Regions from separate parts of the Homo sapiens genome. Here region 1 is linked to region 2. Evidence: fine-mapped expression QTL. A gene starts in region 2. The other region holds a variant in brackets. All regions are shown on one strand. Distances are from middle to middle.

What was found. PIP is the estimated chance that this variant, and not a neighbour inherited with it, causes the effect.
Region 1: its variant is the best candidate, but not a certain one, in a credible set for the expression of NGF in monocytes after Pam3CSK4 (Quach 2016, PIP 0.80).

The regions. Positions count from the first base shown.
Region 1 is chr1:115,505,267-115,508,173 of GRCh38, reverse strand. No RefSeq gene overlaps it. Among named protein-coding and RNA genes, the nearest start is that of VANGL1, 140 kb to the left of the region's middle. The variant A/C (reference allele first, on the strand shown) is at 1,583.
Region 2 is chr1:115,336,779-115,339,685 of GRCh38, reverse strand. NGF (nerve growth factor) reads left to right here and starts at 1,437. Exons shown (of 3, transcript NM_002506.3): 1 at 1,437-1,482. All of the region lies in intron 1 of NGF-AS1 (NGF antisense RNA 1), which reads right to left.

The DNA of each region.
Region 1 (2,907 bases), 170 kb before region 2:
GAGAAGAATGAGAGAGATTTAAGGAGGTGTGGAAAGAATGTTGAACGGAATCCAAAATCTCTTTGTAAATGTATTTTGAAAGAAATAATTCAGCATTGTTTTAAAATCACAGTTTCTAAAATGGGGAATAAAAATTGGCAAGTCTCAGTCTCATAAGATGCAGACTTGGCCAAAATCGTCTTTCCCTCTTTGAGGGTTTGGTTTTTTTTAAAGAAACATTTTAAGTGAAAACTCTGCTGCTGGCTTTAGCTTGTGAGTTCTTTGGGTAGAGTCCTTACACTGGTTGGAGAACAATAAAAGATTCACAGTGGAATTCACATCAGAGAAGGTGGCCCCCCAGGATGTGAGTTGAAACCAGAGTGTCCTCCTTCACTGCCATCTTCTCACCACCTGCAGTGGTAACACCCAGTCCTGCATCCATGGCACCATGATGGCCCTCATCCGAGACCAGAGACAGCACAGCCTCAGCAAGCCAAGTTTCTGGTGCCATCCAAAGGACATCAGTGACATAGAGCACAGGAGGAAGGCTTGTTTGAGGATAGTAATTGTTTGACTTCCCACAGATTATTTTGTCCAAAACCCTAAGGACTCCATTGCAAAAAAATACTGCGCCAGGAAGAGTAGATAGAGGAAGAAAAGGGAATAAGTGTGGGGTGAGAAAGGGCATGCCATGGAAGAGAAGGGAGCAGAGGGAAGAAGAGGGCTGAGGGGAAAGGGGAAAAAGGGACTGGGAATTCCGCAGGGTCAGAGGACCTTGCCAAGACCACCATTTGTTCGAAGCATGCTCTGCCCCTAGATGGTGCTGTGTAATTAGCAAGTTCAGGAAATAACCTCACTCAGCACAGAATCCCAGCTTTCCCTGTGGTGCGTTTATGTATGGGGGCTTGTTTGCATCAGTTTCCCACACAGCCCCAAATTAACTTGTGCGTGCTCCTGGCGGCTATCCTGTGTCCTTTTCTTCCCCTCCATTCTCCGTGCTCTTTTTCATCTGCTGCGTGCTGTGCTAGGTGCTCCTTGTATCTTACCTCCTGCATGCTCACAAGAAGCCTGTGAGATAGGCAGCCTTATCTGCTTCAAAGATGAAAATAATGAGACTCAGATATGTACCGTGAGAAGCTCAAGCTCTCTGAATCTTAAATTCAACAGCTGGAGCCCAGGTTTGAATCTGGATAAGTGGGACTTGCAAAGTCCATGAGCCTGAGAGTGGGAAATCTGGTGCCTAACTCTCCGTGGCCATCCCTGTGTGTCTCTGAGCCTGGTTGCCATCATCTTTACCGTGCTCTAGCCAACGACCAGCCTGTCGGCCCTCTGACCCCTCAGTCAATCAACAGTCTTGATTCATTGTGTGAAGACCACGTTGTGTACAGAGACTTGCCTGAGCCCTGTGTCAGTGAAAGTCACAGGTGGCTTCCCCGGAGGGAGATAGGTTGCTGTGAGTTATTACTTCCCCCAGGAGGAACCCAAGGTGAGTGTTTGGCTCACTGGTCATCGCAGTGACATAGCTGGGTGTGAGTAACGAGAGACAGAGAGGGAGGGGAGAAGGGAAAAAAAGGAAGAACCGAAATAAGCTAAATCATCATGA[A/C]TGACTTCTGTTCTGACCAGGAAGATATTTTATTTTCCATGTAAATTTACACCTCTCAGAGCATGTGGAAGCAACAGGCTAAGAATCCAAACAAAAATCCTGTTCTCAAATAATTAGTAATCAATAACTAATTTGTACGAAACTCAAAATAAAAATTACCAATGTTATTTAGCTGGTAATAATAATCTTTGAAAAATAAAACATGACGTTTTGATTCTACGTTCTAATTTATTTTAAATTGAGAGAAACTGAAAAGAAAAGAGGGAGAGATAAGGAGGACACAGAAGCAGAGGAATGACAGAGGAGAAGGAAAACAAAAAGGGACAAAAACAGGTTCCCTGCACCACCTGGGCACCTGTGTCTTTCCTCATGACCCTGTGGCCTTTATTCTTGCTTATTTTCCTTTGTGCCTCCCTGACTCTTCTCTCTACACATATATTTAAAAATAAATAGGGAAATAAAATAGAATTCAAAGGTGATTCCCTTCCCCTGCCACAGCATATTTCCATTATTTTAATGACATAGTAATTTTCATTGCACTGAAAAAAAAAGGATTGATCCATCAATTATCAATTCAGGCAACAAACTAAAATTGAGATAATTGTAGTCTGGATTAACCACTTTTAAAAAAAATTACAAAGCTGTCAAGTGAGCTTTGTGTAGCTGAGTAGATACAGAAAAGAGGAAAGAGTGTTGTGATGCTGATAGTAGTGATAACAAGAAGATGCCTTTTAAAAAAAGTCTTAATATACCTGGCACTGCGTTTAGCAACTGGCAAGAATTAAGGGAAAAAGCAGAAAAGGATAATATATTATGAATATGTTTTCTTACCTTTAAGTCCTTCAGGACTCATCAAAACAAAGGACAACTTCATCTTCCACGAGAACAGAAGAACCGCTTCTGTTACATCTGGTAAGTTCATCTGTTATGGAAGTAGGTACAGCGAAGTGTTCAGAGAAATAACCTTCTCTAGGCCTTTCTGTAAACTGGATTTTATTAATGGTCTTGACTTCATAAAGTAGAGCAGTGTGAGAGGCAGGCATCCAAGTGAGTTAGTATCTGACTGTCAGGGCATGCATAGGCAAAAATCCTTGAGTCAAGCAGCTGTGACCCATGAATAGGAGGCCCTCAAAATCCATTTGGCTAGAGTGCTAAGACCAAGCAAGAAAACACTTAACTTTAAGTGTCAGTGCTATTGCAACCTCAATGAGATTTTATCTGTGGAGTGAATGATTAGGGGAGACCAAATTTATTGTCATCCAGAGGAAGTATTTATAAACTTGGCAGAGCCACATGTGAGAGTAGAACAAAGGCTGCCAAAGAGG
Region 2 (2,907 bases):
GGAGCAAACGTGAAAATAGAAAGAAGTAAGACCTCAAGACTAATCTGAATCAAGGGAGTTGGAAATGCCTAGTCAGGGCTTCATCTTGCTCAAGTGCCATCCATTAAGGGTAAATGACCACCCCCAGACTTAGGACAGGAATCATCTGCTTCACTAAATCCCAGTTCCCTGGAGGGTGCCCTTCTGCTAAGTTGCACTGGCTGGTGTTACCAGCAATAGGGAGATTCTGTGCCCCACCTTCCCTCCCTGTTACTCTCCTCACACCTACTTCTCCTCTGTGGCATCCATACAGGGTAGGGGTCCAACCCACCTTTGCTATAGGAAGAAGCGAAGGCACAGACAAGCTCAACACGGGAGGGAGTGGGGCTGTAAATTTCCAAAGAGCTACGAATCCCCTGGAATGCTACAATTAATGATGCACATTTGGTGACAAATTTGACTTCAGGGGTATTTCTCCCTTGCTCATTTTATGCTGGGGTGGGAACAGCCCTGGCAGAGGGGCAGGGGAAAGTCAGGCAAGCTCTCCTGTCAGGCTGAATCGAGGGAACTCAAGAAATTTTGAAGGGTCAGGAAGAATTTGTGTGGGGCCTGGAGTGTGGAGAGGGGGGCATGGGGGCCTAGGGTTTGCTGGCTATATCAGTCTGGGGTCACAGACCCCTTGCAAAACTGATGAAAGCTGCGGACCTTCAGCTCAGAAAAGAATATTAGCATTGCACACAGTCGCGCAAATCAGCCTACAGTTTCAGAGGGGCCAAGGACTCCGGGAAGTTCCTGGAACCCAGGGCCTTAAGTTAAGGTCCCGGCTCTAGCTCCTGACTCCTGAAGTCCTCTGCCCCTTGTCCCCATGCTGGACTTGCCGGGCCTGGGGGCCTTCTAGCTGGTTCTGCAGCCGCCTTCCCTTGTCAGAGGAGCTTGGGCACCTGCCCCTCGCGGAGCTCCCCCTGGGTGCTCACCTATCCTGGGATAAGGAAAGGCGCCCCGAAGAAAAGGAGCAGCCGATGCCTGGGGCACCGAGGGCGACGCCGGGCAGACCAGGGAGGCACTGGCGAAGGGCAACGCGCGGGGGCAGGGCGGAGAGGTGAGGGAAGCTGCGAGCAACTCCGCCCAGCCCCAGCCAGTCGGCCCAACGACCCCTGCCGGTGCCCCAGAAACTCCCCCTCCCGGCTTTGCGCGCGCGGCCCCTCAGACCCCAGTGGGTTTCCCTTTGACCTCTGAAGGTTTAAAGTCCTTCTCTGGCTGGGTCTGGCCAGCCCTCCAGGAGCGATCCGTCTGTAGTCCCCAGGACCCCCTCCAGCCGGGCACCACAGCCCAGCCACAGCAGGTGCGGGGCTGGTGGTGGGGAGGGGAGGGATGGGGGCCAGGATTTGGAGCGTGTGACTCAGGAGTACGGGAGGAGGGGCTAAGAATTCAAGAAGCCTGTGTGAGAGCAGCTCGGCGCTCCGGCACAGCAGAGAGCGCTGGGAGCCGGAGGGGAGCGCAGCGGTGAGTCAGGCTGCCCCGAGCCGATCCCGAGAGGGGCGCAGCGCGGGCGCGGGCAGGGGTGGCTGGGCTTCGCGGGAGAGTTTGCAAGGATACCGGTCTGGCGAGCTCTCTGGTTACCCCCGAGGCTCCCGCAGGCCGAAGAGCAGCCCTGAGAAATGTCCCGAGTGGGTGTGGGGGCGCGGGACCCTCGCGGGAGGACGAGTCGGACCGAGGGAACAGCGTTAGTTCTGGTCGTGGAGTCCCTAGTCCCAGGATGGCCTGCAGTCCAGGGAGCAGCCCTGGCGCCTGCAGAAGCCCACGGCCATGCCAGGGTCTAGCTCGAGGGCTAGAAGTGGATAACGCGCAAGTGAGGGAGAGCGAATGGGCGCGGAGAGGGATGCGCCGGCAGCTGGCGCGCCAGGGCGGGAGGAGTGGCGGCCAGCACCGCGGGGGGAGCGCAGAGCGCGCTGGCTGAGGTGAGCGCCGAGTAGGGAAAGTGCTGCGCGGCCCCCAGGTAGGGGGAGGAGCGGAACGGGGCGCGCTAGACCTGGGGCAGTTCCCTCAGCGCGTCTCGGAAGGGCTGGGAGTCGTGACTGAGGGCCCCGGGGGTTAACGCAGGAAGTCTGCGAGCCAACGCCGGGGTCCGTCCGGCGTACCGGGGCCCTCCACGGAGCCGCGTTGGACAACCTCAGGTAGAGGTCGCCAAGGTTCAGCCCTGCCACTTGGGTCACACGCTTCATCTCCAGCTGTCTGCTGCCAGGTGTGGGAGAAGCGGGCGTGGAAGGTTAGGGCGGGGAGCGCCTTGAGTTCAGGCGAGGAGGATCTAGGGGAGGGAGAGAGGACTCAGGGGTCAGGGAGCTGCAACTTTGAGCCAGCAGAAACAAGCAGCTTAGCTCCCTCTAATTACAAACCTCCTTCTAAAAAAAAAAAAAAAAAAAAAAAAAAAAAAAAAAAAAACAAAAACAAAACAAAAAAAATTTCGAGATTCTTAAGGAAGGTGTTTCGTGCTTGAACTTTTTCTTCTCTTGTGATTTGAGAGATTAAAAAAGAGCCTGCTTGCTAGGCTGGTTTTTCCAAGTTGTTCCAGGTTGGAAGTTGTAACAGTTCGAAGGATAATTTATGAGTGTTTCATGCATTAAAGTGTATTACAGCAAAGCCTTTTGGGTGCTGTGGGTATTAAGGAAAACTTAGTGCACGTTCCCAGCTGGAAACCAAAATAGTGCTCTCCTGGGTGCCTCTGCCCCATCTGTCATCCAAGGCCAATGGAAATCCTGTAGAAAAGTCACTTGATTAATTGTTCTGGCTCCATCCTCTGGGCACACCCACTGCCAGTGCCAGTCCCCTCCTCCCCAATCCATGCACAGCCAGCTGCACTCTGCAAATGCAGAAATGACAGTGGAGACCCCATCAGTAACTTCTCTCCAGGGTCCTCAAACTCTTGAAGCC